Linked DNA regions of Homo sapiens. The protein of the gene in region 1 purifies or fractionates together with the protein of each later gene. This does not show direct contact. Each region holds a gene or a part of one and is shown on either strand. Other genes may lie near its edges. The genes, in order: PPP4R1, MAP7 and CCDC6.

Evidence for each region.
Region 2: the proteins of PPP4R1 (region 1) and MAP7 purify together in Homo sapiens (affinity purification with mass spectrometry; 2 studies listed by BioGRID and IntAct, with this or other methods). This does not show direct contact.
Region 3: the proteins of PPP4R1 (region 1) and CCDC6 purify together in Homo sapiens (affinity purification with mass spectrometry; 3 studies listed by BioGRID and IntAct, with this or other methods). This does not show direct contact.

The regions. Positions count from the first base shown.
Region 1 is NC_000018.10:9,583,434-9,590,596, reverse strand, and holds part of PPP4R1 (serine/threonine-protein phosphatase 4 regulatory subunit 1), read left to right. Parts: intron 1-1,743; coding exon 1,744-1,886; intron 1,887-2,361; coding exon 2,362-2,508; intron 2,509-5,768; coding exon 5,769-5,876; intron 5,877-6,016; coding exon 6,017-6,082; intron 6,083-7,163. UniProt on the Homo sapiens protein: Regulatory subunit of serine/threonine-protein phosphatase 4. May play a role in regulation of cell division in renal glomeruli. The PPP4C-PPP4R1 PP4 complex may play a role in dephosphorylation and regulation of HDAC3.
Region 2 is NC_000006.12:136,365,365-136,372,527, reverse strand, and holds part of MAP7 (ensconsin), read left to right. Parts: coding exon 1-27; intron 28-6,088; coding exon 6,089-6,201; intron 6,202-6,509; coding exon 6,510-6,793; intron 6,794-7,163. UniProt on the Homo sapiens protein: Microtubule-stabilizing protein that may play an important role during reorganization of microtubules during polarization and differentiation of epithelial cells. Associates with microtubules in a dynamic manner.
Region 3 is NC_000010.11:59,903,557-59,911,067, reverse strand, and holds the start of CCDC6 (coiled-coil domain-containing protein 6), read left to right. Parts: upstream 1-4,511; 5' UTR 4,512-4,643; coding exon 4,644-4,946; intron 4,947-7,511.

The DNA.
Region 1 (7,163 bases):
TGGGCTTTATTCCCCTGCCCCGCCCCATTAGTCTATTTGCCTAAGCGGGGCTTTGAAGAAAGAAAAGTTGCTGATTTCATTTTTAACTGAAACCATAACTTGTGTCCTCCTTTTGCTTCAAAAATATAAGCAATTGTCAGTGTTAACTTAGAAAATTCAGCATCCATGAGAAAAGCAGAGGCCTGTATGTTTACTTTTTTAAAAATTAGGTTTTTCTTCAAAACAGAAACACTCTATTTTGTTCATATCTGGCCAACTTCACATGGTACAACAGTATAATAGAAATTCCAGATATTGGTTTGTTGATAAGATTCTGAGCTTTGTAAAATACAGTATTATCTACTTAAAGGTATGTTAATTTCTCTGTTGATATCTGAAATCCTAGTAGACACATTCATACATATTTACTTTAATGTAGCTTTATTAATGCATAATAATAATGGGTATCAGAGTTCTAGTTAGGTCCGATACAATGACTTGTTACTGATAATCCATCATGTCTGTCTGTATTTCAGTCACTTGCATGTCTTCTATGAATTGCCTACTTGTATCCTTATTTTCTTTCTTATTATTTATTTGAACAGTGTGTTCACTTCCTAATACTCTGTTATACATGAATTTGCTCCCAGGCTGTTTTCCCTTTTAACTGAGTATTGGTATCTGTTATCTATAATAAAGTTTTTTTGTTTGTTTGTTTTTGAGACAGAGTCTTGCTCTGTTGCCCAGGGTGGAGTGCAGTGGCGCGATCTTGGCTCACTGCAACCTCCACCTCCCGTGTTCAAGTGATTCTACTGTCTCAGCCTCTGGAGTAGCTGGGATTACAGGCATGCACCACCACACCTGGCTCATTTTTGTATTTTTAGTAGAGACAGGGTTCACCATGTTGGCCAGGCTGGTCTGGAACTCCTGACCTCAAGTGATCTGCCCGCCTTGGCCTCTCAAAGTGCTGGGATTACAGGCACACCCAGCCTATAATAAAGTTTTTATAATGTATAATTAGTTGGTCTTACGGTTGATTTTTGGATTTTGTCTTCCCACCTCAAGATTGAACATTTAATATTATCTTTTAGTACTTTTGATCTTTATGATGTGCAGTAGGAACTTTTGTTCCGTGCTAACTAGCTGATTTTCCTACTGTTGCTTCTTAGACATTTCATCTTTTTGAAGCCCAGAAATTTGAAATGCCATATTTCTCACATTTAAATTTGCCATATGCACTTGGGTCTTTTCAGGTGTTTAAAAAATATTTGTCATCTTTAATTTTCATTTACCCATTTTTAGTCTTAGTTAAGTCTAATTATATATCTTTCATTTATTGACTAAGTTGAGATTAGGAACTAGTTTTTATGACTTGTCCTAGTAGGTTCTTAAATAGTGGAATTTATGGATAATACTATGTATGTGTCAGAGTATTGATGTAAATATCAGATAGGATATTTAACCCCTAGCACAGTGTGGCACAGTGTAGGTGATGAATAAATTTATTTATTGTTAAGAAATGGTTAGATACTCAGTGCATACTGTGAACAACAGAAGCTTGGATTGAAGATAAGGTCCTCCTTTCACTCATGGGATTGATCTGTGTATGATTCTGAAAAGGAATGCAGAATTAAAGGATGTTGTCTCAAGTCCTTTATATTTTGAAGATGAAAGTCCATAGCCTTCCTAAGTACCCTCAAGAACAGATAAAGGTTTTGTTGCTGCAGGAGAACATGTTTGCTCACATTGCCGTTATTTCAATAGAACCAACTGTGAGAGCGGAGCTGATGGAACAGGTGCCTCACATCGCACTGTTTTGTCAAGAAAACCGGCCTTCAATACCATATGCTTTTTCAAAATTCTTACTACCTATTGTGGTTAGATACCTTGCAGATCAGAATAATCAGGTAAGAGTACCATTTATATGTTCTTAAAAGAAATTTACGTAGTGTAATATATGGAGAATAGCCGAGCCTAAGTGTTCTCTTTGGAATGTTTTACTGTTTTTCAAAAATGAATATTTATCTTAGACAAGATGTGTTTAGAGTCTGACAAATCTAGTAGATCCCTTTAATGCCATTATGGACAATGCCTAGTAACTGCACTCTCACTTGGTAACCTCCTAGCGGTCCCTTAAAAGGTTTGTTACTTTGTGAGGCATCTTTTACCAGGATGGCTCTGTCCACTTCCTCTGTTACAGCACAATCTACGAAGTTCTGTAGTCTTTGTAATAGTTGAAGAAAATAAACACAAATATTTATTTGCGGAGTTTTGCCAGTTATGGGTCCCTTTGAGATGAGAAATCTTTGTTTATAAAAATCAAGTGATAGAATTTTGTCATGTTGCATATGTACTTTCTTTGTGTTGTTATTTTTCTCCTAGGTGAGGAAAACAAGTCAGGCAGCTTTGCTGGCTCTGTTGGAGCAGGAGCTCATTGAACGATTTGATGTGGAGACCAAAGTGTGCCCTGTCCTCATAGAGCTGACAGCCCCAGATAGCAATGATGATGTGAAAACAGAAGCTGTGGCTGTAAGTCAAATGCCATTTTTCCACTTATGCAAAATGTGGCTGATAAGAGGTGCTTATTAAAAGTCAGGCCGGGGTTAGGCACGGTGGCTCATGCCTGTAATTCCAGCACTTTGGGAGGCCGAGGTGGGTGGATCACTTGAGGTCAGGAGTTGGAGACCAGCCTGGGCAATATGGTGACACCTGGCTCTGCCAAAAAAATACAAAAATTAGCCAGGCATGGTGGTGTGCGCCTGTAGTCCCTGTTACTTGGGAGGCTGAGGCAGGAGAATCACTTGAACCTGGGAGGAGGTGGAGGTTGTAGTGAGCCAAGATCAGGCCACTGCACTTCAGCCTGGGCGACAGAGCAAGACTCCGCCTCAAGGAAAAAAAAAAAAATTAGGCTGGGCTGGGTGCAGTGGCTCATGCCTGTAATCCCAGCACTTTGGGAGGCCAAGGTGGGAGGATCACTTGAGACCAGGGGTTTGAGATCAGCCTGGCCAACATGGCAAAACCCCATCTCTACTAAAAATACAAAAAAAATTAGCCAGGTGTGGTGGCACATGCTTGTAATCCCAGCTACTCTGGAGGCTGAGGCACGAGAATCATTTGAACCTGGGAGACAGAGGTTACAGTGAGCCGAGGTCATTCCACTGCATTCCAGCCAGGTTGACAGAACAAGACTCTGTCTTAAAAAAACAAAACAAAAAAAAAAAAAGAAAGAAAGAAAGAAAGAAAAGGCTGCTTTCTGTTAAAGTTGCCACAAATCATTAAATTTGAAATACAATCAGGGCTAGAAAGGGACATAAAGGCTTACAAAGGAAAGTGTACCTTCTGCACACAATACGAAAAAATACATAATTGTAAATTATTATGTCAAAGTGGAAAACTGAAATGGTTATTTTATCAGTGCAGTTAAAATTTTAAAAACCCTGGACTGAACGAAGAAACACTTGAACCCCTTCAGTAGGTATTGAACACTTTTCTAGGCACTGTGTAAGCACAGTGGAAATAAAATAATACTTTGCTCCTGCTCTGACAGGTATGGTCTTTGTGGGAAGGATGGTCAGGCAAGTACATTTCCCAGGATATATGACATCAGTGATGGTTATCAGAAGAATATACAGATTGTTAAGTCATTACGCACATCATAAAGTCAAATGTAATAGGAAGTTTCTGGGTTTTTTTTTGACATGGTTTGCAAATATTCTGATTACTTGAAGGCCATGATAGGGCATGAATTAGTATAGAGTAGTATCTGTTGTGATTCACATCTGGTTCCTGAGTTCGGATAGTAGTAATTCTCATGGTAAATTAGAAAAGTGATAAATTCGTCTGGAAATTTATTCATATCTATTTGGATAGTAAGAGTTCACTCCTTAAGCCTAAAATAATATGGTTGCGTCTTTGTTGATATTTTTTAATAATCACACTATATTTAGTGCTTCTGGATCATCAGTAATGGGATGAATTAGATGATCTCTCTAGTCTCTTTCCCTTGAAGAATTTCTTGAATCTATTATTTTTAGATACTCAGTTACCAGTTAATAATAAATTTACTTTTTCAGTAATGTTTTTACTGAAGTGAACCTTACATGACATAAAATCATTTTAGTGTTAGTGGCATTTAATATGTTCACAAAGTTGTATAACCACCACTTCTTCCTAGTTCCAAAACATCATTATTTCTTTTTTCACTTTAGGATTTTTGCAATGAAGGAAATCAGTTTTGGGCTTGGCCTAATTTTTGGTTTATATTGAGCCGTTTAACTTGCTGTATTATAATTCTCGATGCAATGTAAAATTAGTAAAACATTACAATAAAAAATTTAAAAACTATATCCAGTGCTAGTAGGAGTCTTATGATTCTCTTACAGTTGTGTTTGTTTTTTGGTCATGTTTTATATTCCATGGCTCCCATATTTTCTCTATCTTAATAGATAGAGAAATAATAATTATTTCTTAATAAAAATTAATTTCTTAATAAAAATAATTCATTTTTAAATAAATTTAGTTATGCTACATCAGTGATATACAGCATAACTTTGGATTGTTAACTAGAGCATGGAGATGCTTATTCAAAAAACAAAACTGGTTTTGGGATTTAGGAGATGTAGGCGTTATCTCTAGTTCTGATGATGGTGGGATTTTCATGGGGATAGTGTTGAATCTGTAGATCAATTTGGAGACAATTGCCAGTTTCACAGTCTATGAACATGGTAGATCTATTTATTTAGGTCTTTGATTTATATCTTTAATCTTTTGTAGTTTTCAGCAGAAAGTTCTTGTGTGTATTTTGTTCGATTTCATATTTTTTAAAAGTACTTCTGTGAGTGATACTGTTCTTAAATGTTTCCAGTTCATTGTTCATTGCTAATTTGTAGAAATACAATAGATTTTTATATTCTAATTTATAGCCTACAACCTTCCTAAACATACTTATTCTGGTGGCTTCTTTGTAGATTCCTTCTGATTTTCTGTGTAGACAACCATGTCGTATTTGAATAGAGAGAATTTTCTTTCTTTGCAATCTGTATCTCTTTTACTTCTTTATTTTGTCCTGTTTGTACAGTCTAGCAATTGATACAATTGATAAATGACAACAGGCTATCCCATTTCTTTCTGTATTAACTGTGGGAACAATGTATCTAAATAGAGGGCCAGTTTTCAAATAAAGTTAATCCTCACTTTGCCTCCTATTGTGTTAACTGAAACATGCCTATATCAGAACTGTGTTCATGCTTTCCCTGGAACTGAAGCTTTGCAAAACCAGGACATGGTTCTGATATGTATGAGCTTTAGTTCACAGGGTGCTTTGCAAGGCGAGGACTGAATTTTTTCTTAGCAATACAGATATGCTAAATCTAGATCTTTCCTGGGGATAGTTTTCCCTTTGAACAGTCACCAATTTTTTAAATTGGGAAAATGTAGGTTTTTGTTTGTTTGTTTGTTTTGCTTTTAAAATTACCAGGCAAAATGATGAAGTAGTAGTAAGATGGAAACTGTGGACAAAAATGAAATTGTTAGGATTTTCTGTGGGTTTACTGGGCATGCAGTATTTATTGGTTGTTTTTATTGATTGTGGTTAATATCTGTCTTTGTTTCCTACTTAGATAAATAAGATGAAATTAATAATTGGCTATGAATGTTTTCTGTCATGTATATAGTATAATGATGCCATATCATATTTTATGTTTCCTCAAATTATATACTTTTATTATTTAATTTAACTGAAAGAGGCTTACTTGATATTTTCAGTGTGTGTTTGTTCTTACTTATTTTAGATAATGTGCAAAATGGCTCCCATGGTTGGGAAGGATATTACAGAGCGTCTTATCCTCCCTAGGTTTTGTGAGATGTGCTGCGATTGCAGAATGTTTCACGTTCGAAAGGTATTTTTTTGTCGTTTTTTTTCTGCTGTTTAAGAACATAGTTCTAGTGGTTAATGTACTGATACATGATATTTAAAAGATTATCTTAGAAGAACCTTATGTGTAATATTTTGAAATGTCAATGATGCTTTTGTTGTCAGGTCTGTGCTGCCAATTTTGGAGATATTTGCAGTGTAGTTGGCCAGCAAGCTACTGAAGAAATGTTGGTAAGTATTGCAGATATAAAGGAGTAAACAGTGTGTGTTACAAAGTAGTACATAAAGTTTGAAATGCACACATTTACTCCAAAGTTTTATTAACACAATTCCATGAATATAAACCAGAAAGATAATTTTGAATTTAGGAGTTTAAATATCTGTAATCTGGGCATTTGAATTATCTTTTTGATATTTATTAAAAATATGGATATGTTTCAGAACCATTGATCTGTTTTCACCTCTTCCATTTCTGTTAAGCAAATCAATTCTTACTTATTCAATTGAACCTTTAATTTTATTGCAACCCTCAAGAATGTTGATGACATATTAAATCTATAGCAAGTTAGTTTTAAATAGTACACAAGATGCCTATACTTGATGTATAAGTCACCATATCTAAAGAGTTTCTGAAGCCATCTCTTATGCAAAATAATTAAGTTCAGGGGCAAGCTCTTGTAAAACATTTAAGCTATGATTGTTGGGAGTGCTTTTGCATAGCCAGAAATATTGCATAAGACAATCCAGTATGCTTTTGCATAGCCAGAAATCCGACGGACCAAATTATCAGCACTTTTTATTAATTTATCAGTGATCTTTCATGTTGGGTAGGGTTTTGATTATCACTTTTGTGAAATAATACATTTCTGTCCGTTTTAAAGCAAACATAATTTTGACTCATAAGAAATAACTTAAAATTTAAGATATATTATTATATGTTATATATTTATAATTTAAGATACATTATTTTTTATACTTTTAGGAATAGACAGTAAATTAGATGTGATTTATTGAAAATTGTTGAGTATAAATACTAATAGATCCTACTTTTTAAGACAATCCAACATTTAAAACACTGAGGCTGGGCGTGGTGGCTCACACCTGTAATCCTAGCACTTTGGGAGGCCAAGGCAGGTGGATCACCTGAGGTCAGGAGTTCGAGACCAGCCTGGCCAACATGGTGAACCCTCATTTCTACTAAAAATACAAAAATTAGCTGGGCGTGGTGGCACACGTCTGTAATCCCAGCTACTTGGGAGGCTGAGGCAGGAGAATTGCTGGAACCCAGGAGGTGGAGTTTGCAGTGAGCCAA
Region 2 (7,163 bases), on another chromosome or scaffold:
CGCAGGAGGATCATTCATGGCACAGCGGTGAGTAGCTGTTGGGAGCAGCTGGGCAAGTCTGGGAGCCAGTGCTGTTCCTGTGCAGACTGTACATGACCCTGAGCTGTGGTGTGGGCGTAAGAGGGGGAGACCGTGACATCCACCATCCCATCTTTCCCATTGATCATGAATCTGGCTAGCTGGGCAGTAGTGTCCCCTCACTTCCTCTTCACTTGGGGATTTTGCTCTCCCTAAACATTTGAATTTGAAGATGAAAGCTGTTCTTTGTTCAAGCATGTATGAGTGGACGCCCTACCCTCCTGGAGCGTCCATACACATAAGTACAATGCCAGAATACTTTCATTTTTGAAAGTAGGAAAACCAAATGGCCTTTGAAGGGGAAGTGGGCTTGGACTGCTGCCTTGGCATTTTATTTCAACCATATCCAGAAGCTGGCTGAACTCTAAATGTGGTTCACTCAAAAGCAAGATAAAGAATTTTTATCCTGCTTGGCTAATCCCTGTCAAGGCCCTGTCAAGGGATCTTAAAATTTAGTCAAAAAAGTATTTTGAAAACATTAGTCATTTGCTATATCACTAATTCGTAAAAGGCTGTTAGGCTGTGCTATAAATTCTGATTTTGTAAGTGAAAAATATAATTTGTACTTATTATTACGGGCTGAGGTAATGTTAATTTTCACCATGCTATAAATGCAATGAGGTAATTTGTATGTCTCCAGGAATCTTCTTCTTTGTTTTAAATCTTGTGTTTATTTGGTGTCAGTTGAAAGATATAAACCTTGTTCTGTGGTCTTTAGACATTGTACTTTAGTCTTAAAGGACTCACCAGTGAACTAGAAGATCTCATTGCCTCTCTCCAGGATAACAGTATGACCCTTTTGATGAAAGGCTGAAACAGTTTCTTAAAATCGTAACTTCCCAGAGCAATTCAGATTTATAAACCTGATGGACACTTAAAAGGATTTTGCTTAAAGGATAATTCAGGGTTGTGAGAGCTTGATGGCTTTGCCTACAGCCTGTTTTTCTTTCAAGCTCCATCGGCCTTTCTGGAATCAGTGTTTGATTCATGATTGAGTCAGGCCTCCAACCCTCTAAGCCACAGGTGAAACAATCTTTGATGTCTGGAAAGTTTTAATTTATTAGAGTGTTGGTGTTTCAGAGATCCTCCTTAGCTGTAGACAGAAAGCCGTAGTTAAACAGAACAGGTTGGCCCCAAAGTTGGGTACTCACTGGGCAGGGGAAAAGAGCATTTACCATGGAAAAACTATCTTGTTCTGGGTAAAAACAAAAATTAACACTCCTTGAGAGAAGGTTGAGGGCCACCTGTGGCTGACAGGTTAAATGAGAGATTTGTCATCACATGATCCAGAGCCTTGTTTTGTTTTGTTTTTATTACCTTCCTCTTTCTCTATTTAATCACATAGCTGTCTTTTTACCTCTTTACAACCAAGTATTTAGGCAAATACTAACAGAAAACGACTCAGAGTCATTTATACCCTGGAGCTGCACTGTGGAATTCAGTAGTGACTGGCCACAGTGAGCACTTGGAAAGTGGCTACTGAAACTGACAAGCTAAATTTTAAGTTTTTAAAAAATATTTAGTTGTGTTAAAAAAAAAAAAAAGCATGTAACGTAAAATTTACCATTTTAATCATTCTAAAGTTCAGCAGTGTTAAGTATATTCATATTGAAGTGCAACCAATGTCCAGAACTTTTTAAGTCCTGCAAAACTCAAACTCTATACCCATTAAACAACTCCCCATTTCCCCCTCCCCCCAGGCCCTGGCAGCCACTGTTTTAATTTCTGTTCCTATGAATTTAGCTACTTTATAGACCACATAAAAGTGAAATCATGCAGTGTTTGAATTTTTGTGCCTGGCTTATTTCACTTAGCATAATGTCCTCAAGGTTCATTCTTATTATAGCATATGTCAGAATTTCCTTCCTTTTTAGGGCTGAATTATATTCCATTATATTTGTATACCACATTTTGTTTATCAGTTCATGTGTTGGTGAACATTTGGGTTGCTTTCACCTCGTGGCTATTGTGAATAACGCTGCTATGAACATGGGAATATAGATATCTCTAGAGATTGTTCTTTCAATTTCACTTGATATATAGGGATTGCTGGATCATATAGTAATCCTATTTTCAATTTTTTGAGGAGCCTCCATGCCATTTTCCACAGCAGCTGTACCATTTTACATTCCCACTAACAGTGCACAAAGATTTCTGTATCTCCACATTCTCGCCAACAATCGTGATCTTGTTTTTTGATAACAGCCACCTTAAGGAATGTGAGGTGATGTCTTGTAGTTTTGGTTTGCATTTCTTTAATGATCAGTGATGGTGAACATATTTTCATATGCTTGTTGGCTTTTCATGTGTCATCGTTAGAAAAATGGCAATTCCAGTCTTTGCTCACTTTTTAATGGGGTTATTTTGTTTTTGTTGAATTGTAGAGTTATTTATATATTCTAGTAGTAACCCCTTATTAAATATATGACTTACAGATACTTTCTTCTATTCCATAGGTTGCCTTTTTACTCTACTGATTGTTTCCTTTGATATATAGAAGTGTTTAAGTTTGATGTTGTCCCATTTGTTTATTGTTAATTTATTGACACTTTATTGCCTACGCTTTTAGTGTTATATCCAAGAAATCAGTACCAAACACAGTGTCATGAAGCTTTTCACTTATGTTTTCTTCTAGAGGTTTTATAGTGTTAAGTCTTACATTTAAGTCTTTAATCCATTTTGAGTTAACTTTTGTATATTTTAGAAGGTAAGAGTCCAACTTCATTCTTTTGCATTTGGATATCCAGTTTTCCCTGCATCATTTGTTGAAGAGAATGTCCTTGTTTCATTGAGTGGTGTTAGCTTTTGACCATATACACAAGGGTTTGTTTCTGGGCTCTGGATTCTATTCCATTGGTCTATATATCTTTTTTTTTTTTGAGACAGTCTCACTCTGTCACCCATGCTGGAGTACAATGGCACAATCTCAGCTCACTGCAACCTCTGCCTCCCAGGCTCAAGCAATTCTCATGTCCAGCCTTCTGAGTAGCTGGGAATACAGGCATGTGCTACCACGCCCATCTAATTTTTGTATTTTTAGTAGAGAGAGGGTTTCGCCATGTAGGCCAGGCTGGTCTTGAACTCCTGACCTCAAGCGATCCACCCATCTCGGCCTCCCCAAATGCTGGGATTGCAGACATGAGTCGTAGTGCCCAGCCCCATATATCTATATCTGTCTTGATACCATTACCACACAGTACTGATCACTGTAGCTTTTCACCAATTGAGTATCTCTAATTCAAAAATACAGAATGCTCCAAAATGTGAAACTTTTTGAATACCAACATGACACTCAAAGGAGATGCTCATTGGAGCATTTCACATTTCCAGTTATATGGATTAAGGCTGCTAAAGCAGTAAGTGTTAATGCAAGTATTCCAGAATCTGAAATCTGCACACTGTAATCCCAATCATTTTGGATAAGGGATACTCAACCTGTAATATGTTGTGAAATCAGGAAATGTAAGAATTCCAACTTTGTTCTTTTTCAAGATTATTTTGGTTCTTCAGGATCCTTTGAAATTTTCTGTGAATTTTGGGTTGAATTTTTATATTTCTGCAAAAATAAAAAATTATATTGGGATTTCAATAGGGAATGCATGGAATCTGTGGATCCCTTTTGGTAGTAGTGACATCCTAACAGTATTAAATCTTCTAATCCCTGCACACAGGACTTCCTTCCATTTATTTGTGTTGCCTTTAATTTCTTTCAGCACTATCTTCTAGTTTTCAGTATGCAGATCTTTAGCCTCCTTTGTTAAGTTCATTCCTAAGTACTTTATTCCTTTGGATGCTATAGGAAATAGAGTTGTTTTTCAAATTTCCTTTTCTATTTTACTTAATTTGAATTAATTTAGATTTAAATTCAAATAGGCAAATGTGGTTAGTGGCTAAATTTAGAACATCTTCATCATATCAGAAAGTTCTATTAAACAGCACTGCGTTAAAGTATCTGTCAGTGAATCGTCTCTGTTGGAGGATATTTATACTGTATTCTAAACCTACCTTAATTATAAAATTAAAGTCCTTTTCCTGCTGATATGTTGCCCAGACCATTGACTTGCTGAGTATGTGTTCCCCCTCAGCATTGTGGAAACTATTAATAGGAAAGATGATTGTATAGATGGTGGGCTATTAACTCAGATCAGGATGAGAATTGGGAGTGCCTTTACATGTGTGGTACCCAAATGGGTGGTTGGATATAAGAGTAACAAAAGGACTGAAAGGTTTAAAAAAGAAAGAAAAAAAAAAACTCCCTGGTTGGGAGGGTGTTAAGTATCGAGTGTTTTTCCAAACCATTCCTCCTCTGCTCACCTACCCCTAGGTGATTAAAGGAGATAACTTTTAAAAAAGAAAGAATTGGCTCAAAGGTACTGTAATTCTAGGATTATATACCTTTATATAGGTTCATTCCCTGATCCCTGTATTATCAAGGCACAGATAATAATAATCCCCAACCACCCCCACGCCACATCAAAAATTGTCCCTCTTGAGTCTTTTTCCCATTTACATCACCCATTGATCTGATTTCAGCCAAATCAAAATGTTTTGAGAAAAAGAAAAAAAAAGAAGGGCTACTTGAGGTACTTAACCCCAGTCTCCCCTGGGAAAAGACCTGGGCATGCCACCCTGTACACCAGCCAGGAGTGCCCCATATGGTGGCTGCAGCTTTTGATACCCAAAGCCCACAGCAGCTCTGTGAGGCCCCACCTCCTACTTTTGGGGACCTAAAATGGGAGAAATGGTGGTTGAGCAGCTGGAAATGATGCAGAGCTGGCACACACCTTGTGAAGCTCTTCTCTGCCTCTTTCTTCATTTTTTCTGTTTAGAAATCCCAGGGAGACAATGAGCATTATTTGACACTTAAATGTTTTTGCTCCTCTGATAACCCAGACCATCAACTAGGATGCTGCTAAGGAAAATGGAGGGAAGCAATTAAAAGGGACACTGAGGGGAACAAAAGGGAAAGGAAGGAAAAGAGGAGTCGATGCTTGAGCCAGGCAGAAAAGGAGAGAAGAAAAGGTACAGTACTAGTTCATGTGACCTGGGGCTAGATAATACTCTGCCCCTTCCCATGTACGCTTGCAGTCTGCCCTCCTGACAGGTGTTCACATAGGTGCCTCCAGCACGTGCCCCTCCCACCTGAGGGCATTGTCAGGTTTCAGATACTTGGAATGGGTCTGTTTTGCTCTGTACAATTTTTGTTTGTTTGTTTTGGTCTTCATTGACTTTAGAGTAGTGGAACACTTCTCTGGGCTTCCCTTTGCCCATTTTGACTTAGGAAAGTGTCATCTCTCAAGCTGAATTCCTAGTTGGCAATCAGGGAGGGGTGATGTTTTGGCCCACCTTCAGATTTCAGTTTATTCCTGGTAAGGAAGAGCAAAAAAATAAATAGCTGAAATTCCTCACTTTAAACCTGACTTTTCTTCAAAATCACCTATTGTATCAGTTATCTATTGCTGCAAGAGGACAGTAGGTGAAGAAGGACTTGATTCCATTATACAACATCAATATAAAAGAAAAAAATGAGTTTATGTCTAATATAGCAGGCATATAATTTTTTTAAAGACTGAGATATAGTGTGTTTGGGGGGAAAATGTTGAAGAATTAAAAAGAAAAAGATGTGTTTTAATTAAAATTTTTTAAAAAATGAAAGTAACATTTGACATTTGTGGGGGATAAACCAGAATGGGACGTTTTGCTTCAGGTAATTAATTTTAGACACAAAGTATAGGTGCTTTCTAAAAGTATGTACACACATATGCTTTTTGACAAATATGACTCCAACACATCCGGAATCACCTTATTAGTGTCACATTGTGTTAATTCAGTTATACTGTTCAGTGTTAAGCTAACAAGGGCCTTTTGTTGAGATGGAATGGGTATATGTGACATAGCTAAGAAAATTTCTTAAAAGTCATTCAATGGTTTCTAGCTCCACTGTTGAGTATTGTGAGTGTGTTTGCCTCGCTTGTGGAAAAATCTAACTATTGAGTTTCTCTGAACTTAGAGCTATAAAAAAGAAAGAGAGAGAGAAAATGTACTCTTCCTCACATCTGGCACCCGAAGGGCTGTATCTCCATCTAATCCCAAAGCAAGACAACCAGCTCGCTCCCGACTTTGGTAAGTGAAATATAAGTGGCTGGCTGGGTTGTTTCATGTTAGAGAATTAGTAGCTCTCTCCTCTGAAAGTGAACTGTTCTTCTCATGCTGTTTGGCTTTGACTTAGGGAATAGCATTCTTCCCAAAAGGAAAGAAAAAAGAGAAATTGGAATGGTTCCCTAAAGCAACTCTATTTCTGTATCTACCACATAAAAAACAAATACACGGAGCTAAATATCTGCATTCTCTTCCATCGAGTCGTGTTCTAGGTTCTGGCAAGCCTGTTCTCATGTGTCCCCTTTTGTCTGCCTTGTTTGTTTGTGGCCCAGGCTTCCGTCCAAGTCTCTTCCTCATTTGCCTGGCACACCCAGACCGACATCCTCCTTGCCACCCGGCTCAGTCAAAGCTGCTCCTGCTCAGGTCCGGCCCCCATCCCCCGGCAACATCCGCCCTGTCAAGAGGGAAGTCAAAGTGGAGCCTGAGAAGAAAGATCCTGAGAAGGAACCTCAGAAAGTTGCCAATGAGCCCTCACTAAAGGGCAGAGCACCTTTAGTGAAGGTAGAAGAAGCCACAGTTGAAGAGCGGACACCTGCTGAACCAGAAGTTGGCCCTGGTAAGAGCAAACTCACCTGTGGTCTGGGTGCTCTCTCTTTTTCTCCCGCACTGTTTTGATGAAGCTTTTTTTGTTTTCCTTTTCTTCTTTTATTGGAGACTTGGAAATTTTACTCTAAGGTTAAGTTTAATACCTTTCCTTAAGTATAATATTTTAACTTCGCATTGCTTAAAAATAGTTTTTTACTTAGCAACGCTAAGTAAAAAATTACCTGGCAACACTATTCCTGTGCATACTGGAGTTTAAGGACCCCTGGCGTAGCCTGTGTGCTTGATAGAAGTCAGAATTTTTTCCAGAAGACCCACTGGTTTTCACCTCTGCCAGGGTAACCAGATGCTACTTAGAAATGTAAAACCACCTGGAGCTTGAA
Region 3 (7,511 bases), on another chromosome or scaffold:
TCAGGCAAAGTTTTAGATGTTACTGGCTGCCAAAGCTCCAGACACATAAATCATATGTGTTTTGTTTTTTTTTTTTTCGAGACTGAATTTCACATTTGTTGCCCAGGCTGGAGTGCAGTGACGTGTTCTCGGCTCACTGCAACCTCCACCTCCTGGGTTCAAGCAATTGTCCTGCCTCAGCCTCCCGAGTAGCTGGGATTACAGGCATGTGCCACCATGCCCAGCTAATTTTGTATTTTTAGTAGAGATGGGGTTTCACCATGTTGGTCAGGCTGGTCTCAAACTCCTGACCTCAGGTGATCCGCCTGCTTCAGCCTCCCAAATTGCTGGGATTACAGGCATGAGCCACTGCCCCCAGCCTGATATTCTTACTTCTCAAATGATTTACTTTAGCTGATGACTTATTTCTTTAGACTGTCATCTGTATTAATGGCTTTGGTTCCTGTGAAGCAATAATGAGTGAATAAAAACAGGAGCATAGGGATGAGATATGTAATTAATCTTGTAGTCATGATCTCTTGACAAGTTGAGATGTTGCATGTGCAAGGCTAGTTTAATGTTAAAAAGTGTAAAATATTGAAAAAACATGTTGTAGAAATAGAGTGGCTGGGCCGGGCATGGTGGCTCATGCCTGTAATCCCCCTACTTTGGGAGGCTGAGGTGGGTGGATCACCTGAGGTCAGGAGTTTCAGACAAGCCTGGCCAACATGGTGAAACCTGGTCTCTACTGAAAATACAAAAAACTAGCTGGGTGTGGTGGCTGGTGCCTGTAGTCCCAGCTACTCGGGAGGCTGAGGCAGGAGAATCGCTTGAACCCAGGAGGTGGAGGTTGCAGTGAGCAGAGATTGTGCCATTGCACTCCAGCCTGGGTGATAGAGCGAAATTTGGTCTTCAAAAAGAAAAAAGAAAAAAAAAAAAAAGAAATAGAGTGGCTAAAGACAGCAATAGTATAAAGTGTGGATATGGTTGTTTGGGCCCAGGATCTCTTGTCTAATTGACACTGAGAAGATAAAATGAGAAGGAAATTCTGTTGGTGACTCAGTGGTATCTAATCAGTGTGTAACCACTCCAAAATGGGGCTGTCTTTTGTTTTACTAGTTCAGTGGTTCCAAACTGGAGGTAATTTTGCTGCCCAGGGGATATTTGGCAATGTCTGAAGACATTTTTTGGCTGGCATACTACTGGAATCTACTAGGTAAAGGCTAGGGAGGCTGCTAAACATCCTACAATGCACAGGACAGCTCCCTACAACAAAAAATTACCCAGTCTCAAATGTCAGTGTTCAGAAATGCCTTGCTAGACCTAGACAAAGCTTCTAAATTAAAGGTGTAATTAGATAAAGAAACTATCAACTACTTTTCAAGAAATGATAGCCCTAGGCTGGGCACAGTGGCTCTCGCCGGTCATCCCAACACTTTGGGAATCCAAGGCAGGAGGATCACTTGAGGCCAGGAGTTCAAAGCCAGGAATTCAAGACGAGACTGGTCAACATAGAGAGACCTAGCCTCTTAAAAAAAAAAAAGAAGGAGGAGAAATGATAGGGCTACATGGACACATTCTTCTATATTTCTATCCAACTTCTGACACTGTGACATCCCGCTCATACTTGGCTCACCCTAATTTTTTTCAAAACTGTAATGGTGGGTCCTGCAACAACTAAATCCATTTAGAATTTGAATAAAATTACTCAGATCTGACATTAATGTAACTGGATATGTACAGCAATTTGTTTATATATATTAAAAATTAACAAAATTGCTCTATGATTTATGCCATTATTATTTTATTTTATTGTTGTAAACACTAAAGTTCCAAGGCCATAGAGTAAGTGATTTGCAAAAATGGCACTAGACAAATAAAAATCTTGATGTTGCGCCTTGCAGTTAGACTACAAGGTATTCTTTTCCTTTGTTCATGTGTTTTTGCAGCTTAAATTGAGGGCAAAGCTAAATTTCATTATTTCTCCAAAGGAGGTGATTACCTAAATCTGTCCCTTCTTCCTCCAGGCAGCACATACTACCATTTGTTCTTGTGATTCATTTCCCCTAGAAAGCTGAGAAGGAATTTTATAATGATATTATTGGTTTTGTAACTGGTGTTTCCATTGTAATGCTATTACGGAACCAGTGTTGTGATAAATGATCTGTTTATAAGGGAAATCACTTTTACAAGAAGTAGAAAATTAGACACGCTTCTGCTTTGCAATAACAATAAAAACCGCGGTGAAAAAATATTCTCCAGTTTATTCCCATCTGTATCAGCAGGGAAGCTTTAGAAGATGGCTTTCTCCCTAAAGTCTTCTAACCACGATTACTACCTACAAGTCCCATGTCAAAATGCAAATTTCCTCCAAATTCCACTGAAGGCCACTACATTCTTAAGCTTAACCATGACTTGGGCCCTTTAAGAAAACCAGGCGCTTCAAACTCCACCCCTCTGCTGACTTGAAGCAGTGTGAGTCCGCCTTTCCAAGGCGGTTAGTTTTGTGGTGACGCTAAGAGAGAGTTAATTTGCCCCCTGCTCTGCCTGGAAGGAATGTTCCTGTTGCAATAAGCTCTAAAAGTGGAAGCTTTAAGATAATATGGAATAGGGAGCAATAGAAACTTGTGAGGTATGGCAGCCAGACCTACTCTTAAGATTCGATCACAGTGCTGAATAAAGGGGAAAGAATGTTGTTAAATCTGTTTCCCCCTGTGGTGCTTCTCCCTGCTAGCTTTACTCTTCCATTTCAACCCTCAAGTGAGCTTTCCAGAATCCGTTTCCAATTTAACTCATTGTCTCATGTACTAGATCCCAAAAAAGTGAGAGAACTAAGTTTCAGTGCAAATTAAACTGGATCACTTGTAACAGAATGATTTAGATTGCCTATATGTTTCTCAAGAGCAAAGCCAAGCATTTCCTCCCTCCTGCTATACAAACAGTGACAGAGTTCAGAAGCCCTCCAGCACTAAGCTAAAAAATACCTGGGAGAAACTGGGGTTTAGTTGCTGTTGGCATTTAAGCTGTTTGCTAAAAGCAGCCATCTTGGTGAAAGATGATGTCATTTGGAACACTTGGTGTTTTCGAGTTTATTCTGAGGTGCCAGTTTCCAAGAGCCATTGAATCACCGTTTAATCATGAGATCAAATTTAGGTTTAAAGATAATGAGGGAGTGGGAATAAGAATCATTCTTCTTTCTTCCTAACACTTTAGAAATCTTTCAGAAAGTTCAACCCAACAGAAAAAAAAATTACACTTTTTTTTCTATTTTCTATTACCATGTGTTTGTTGTAATGTTAACTAAGCGTGGGTAATAAAACTAGTCTGGTCAGTTTCACTTTCCAATTTTTATACATAAGTGAAAGCTGTTTTGTGTCAACAGGGCAAAGTGTTTAGAATCATCTCACCTGCTGGGCCAATTTCCTGCAAGCCTTTCTTTGGGAAGAGGAAGGGGGAATAAAAGTTTTTGATTTTTAATTTCTTAAACTGCAAAGCTAGAACCATGAATTAGACCGCATTACAGTAATTACTGTTTTATTTTTACATGCTAAAGTTTTCTAGGAGTGAGCAAGAGGATAGCAAAGACGGGTGATGTTGCACTCCCACTCAATCATTACTATTTGTATAGCATAATGTTATGTCCGCAGTTACTTTGGAAAATTGGCACTTAAAGAGGTGTTTCAATCTTCTACTAAAAGTGTTTCGCCTTCCTTTTTTTTTTTCTTCATTAGGTAAATGTTACTGTCTTAATCCTACTACGAGACATGTGCTGGAAATGTTTGCAAAATGCAAAGAGAAAAAGAAAAAAACAGTTGCACCTTGTTTAAACAATTGAGCGCAGTGTGGTTTATGAGGTTATTAAAGGAGATGTGTGTCTCTCCTGCAAATTCTTACTTAACAAGGTTAACCTGTGGCTGCTGTTGTTTCATCCTCCTCGGCCTCTTGTAGAGGAACTTTGTTCTCTTAGGTTTATCCAAGCCTTCCTAGTCAAAAACACCTTGCTTTTGAGAATATAAAACTGCGTGTATGTGTGAAACAGATAGAGGGAGACACGCGCACACACAGTCGGCGGAAGATGGGGCCACAACACGGTAGAGGATGGGTGCCGGAGCCCGGCTGACCTTTCCACGTGTCCCCGGCACCTGCGAGGCTGGTGGGGCATCAGGTTTCCTTTTTCTCGGGGCGGGCGCGAGCCCGGAAGAGGCTGGGCGGCCGTGGGCTTAGATCAGGGGGCTCGGAGGCCCTCCCTTGGAACACGTGTGGCTGGCGAGCTGGTGGTGCGGGGGCAGTCCTTGGCTTTCCCGCACCCGCAGTGCCTGCGCGTTCCCAGCCCGCCCGTGGTCACCAGACGGCGGCGGGCGGGTCCCGGAGCTTTCAGCCAGCTTTGCTGGGCGGCCTAGGGAGCGCGCCCAGCCCGGCTGGAGCGAGCCCCAGTGCAATACTGCCCAAGCCCGGGCGGGGTCTCTGTTCTCTGGCAGAGGAGGTCCCTTGGCAGCGGGAAGCGCCCTCTCTTTCTCTCGCCGCCGCTCCGAGTCTGCGCCCTGGTGCCAGGCGCTCAGCTCGGCGCTCCCCTGTGCTCGCCCGGCGCCCACTCATTCGCAGCCCGGCCTTCGTCGCCGCCGCCTCCCTGCTGCTCCTCCTCCTTTCCCCAGCCCGCCGCGGCCATGGCGGACAGCGCCAGCGAGAGCGACACGGACGGGGCGGGGGGCAACAGCAGCAGCTCGGCCGCCATGCAGTCGTCCTGCTCGTCGACCTCGGGCGGCGGCGGTGGCGGCGGGGGAGGCGGCGGCGGTGGGAAGTCGGGGGGCATTGTCATCTCGCCGTTCCGCCTGGAGGAGCTCACCAACCGCCTGGCCTCGCTGCAGCAAGAGAACAAGGTGCTGAAGATAGAGCTGGAGACCTACAAACTGAAGTGCAAGGCACTGCAGGAGGAGAACCGCGACCTGCGCAAAGCCAGCGTGACCATCGTGAGTGCCCCCCGGGGACGCGCCGCAGCGCCGACCTCCGCCCGCCCCGGGAGGGGCTGCACCCGAATCCAGCCACCCCCCAAGTCTTCCCCAGATTCCCGGGGACCCTCTGAGAGCACACTCCCTGCGGGGACCTGCTGGCTTCCGGGAGGAGAGGGAGGTATCCCTTCGGGGCCACGCGGGTCTGTCCTCCTCGGGGGTCTGAGGACCCTTGCGCGGTGCGGGGGAAGGCTACTGTGGCAACCATTCATGGTCCCTTTTAGCCTCTGGAGAGGAGGCCCCTCCGGGGCTGGGCTGGAGGCTGGCGGCGTGGCTGGGGGGCGGGGTAGGACTTTTTTCAGCCCTAGCATGTTTGAGGGGTGCGTCCAGAATCTGGGGAACCCCAGTCCTGGAAGAGGGAGGAAGCTGGGATCTCTTACTGGGTCCTGGCTCGGAGTGTGGGGGTTCGCAGCTGGACTGGGCACTAAGCTGGCATCTGGACTGCGCTAGCTGGATCGCCCGGGGAGGGGGCGGGAGAGAGTGGCCGGGAATCCGGGAAGTGGAGTTTTCTGGCCGGGATCGAGAGGGAAGGGCGGGTACGGCGCTAATGCTCCCACCTCTGTTGGAAGCTCTTTGCTTTGGGTTGGGAGGGTGGACGGTTTACAGCGAGGAGAGTGCAGCATCCACGCCTGGACAGGGCTGGGGCCGAAACCAGGGGAAGGGTAGTGACTGTGACTCCCTGGCTGAGCCAGAGGTACGTGTGTTTGCTTCATTCGTGGAGTGGTTAGAAGTATCTTGCTTCTGAGTCTAGATACTGGAGAACAGGCCATCTGTTCTGTTTCTACCTGTCCCCTGGAGGCTGCCCAGAAACGGGTAAGCTTGGGTCTGTAGGTCTCTCTCCTGGTGTGGCAGGCGTTTAGAAAGGCCCCTATAGCAGTGATGAGGCGAAACGTAACTAGAAAAAGTACACTGTGTACTCTCACCTATCATCCCTGCCAGCTCACCACATCATTAACATGAAGGATCCCCACACAGACAACTGTATTCAAATCAAAAGTTCCCCAGCCAGAAGCAGAGAAGATGATGTCAAGAAATCAAGGGGGATAAATGGCCATAGCTGCTGCAAAATAGCGGATTAGGCTGAACTTTGAAATGAAGAAAAAGGGATGAATTTGGGGATAGAGGGTCACACCTTGGAAATGGAGCAAGTTTAGGATGCCCCTTGTGCCAGGAAATGCCTTCGGTGGAGGAGGCTGTGTATATGTGTGCGCACGCGTGTGTACACCCCCAGTGCTGGCTCATACATGAGAACTAGATGGCATTCTTAATTTGTGTAGAAAGCAAGTTGCAAGTTAAGTGTGATCAGTAGCCTAAATAGCAGTTGATTGTAAAAAGAAACTTTTCATGCTCAAATCCAATTTTGGAGAATGGAATTGGAGCAACTTTCATGTGAGATGGTAAAGTTCTTGAAGTGCCCTTTTGGTAGGAAGGTGGGGGGCGGGGAATTTGCAGAGGCAGCCACTTCCAAGCCTCCTATGCAGCTTTCTTCGCTGACAGAGATGTCTTTGCTGAGTGGGGGTTAAGAAGAGAGGGAAGTTGTTGGAGGCAGTTTAAGGTTTGAGTTAGTAAATGAGAGGGTTAGTCTCTTGGAGACTGTGAGCCATGGAAAGTAGTAAGACTTGCATGAAGCAAAATAGCCTTTTGCATGCAGTGGGCAATTCAGGCTGGTTTTGTTTGGGAGGGAGGAATGAGGGATGCAGAGACTATGAAAGGGTTATCTGTTTGACACTTAGACCGTATTATAACTAGGTTTGTAAATTGTGCTTAAACATGTTGGCTTTGCAGGAACAAATGTGTTCATTCCCGGTGTTTAAGATCAGAGGCCTTCTGAGTACTTGGCTAGAAGAGCGTATAAGGTGGTGGCTTGCTTTCTTAGCACTTACCCTTAACTACACTGACATCCAACCGAATATACTTTGTGAAATGTCGTGTGGTGTTAATGAGTAAAGTTAACATTGTTTTAGATGACACTGCACAAGTACCAGAAGCCTCTCAGTTCTTCTTTAATTTCTGACTAATATATTCAGGGAGACACATAAAAAAGTGCTTGTGGTTCGCCTGGTTTCCTAATACTTGGCAGTTGTTACTAAGGAGCTGAATGATAAATGCAGAAAACAGATTCCTTCAAGATTTTGCAGGTTTTGTTAACTGACCTAGGATCCAGATTCTGTGGTGGTACGTTTGACCTCTCAGGTATGTAATGCGGGAGGAGAAATTTATGTGACTCCATGAAATGGGCCTGTGAATGTAGAGTCCATTGAACAACACTTAAGTAGTTTATGTCAAGGTTAAGCTGTACAATCCCTGACATCGCTGACTTAAGCATTACCCTTGCTAGTGGCAGGCTAGGAAGTTTCTGATAATTAAGTGAAGGCCTTGTTAGATTTTTCACTATTTTAGTTAATTTGAAGGGAAGATGGTACCATAATTCTGGTAATTGCCTTCCTGGCTCTTTTTAGTTCTAATTATGATATTAACGTTCATGTCCTTGGGCACTAAAGGTGATTGTGGCCTTCTTTTTCCTTG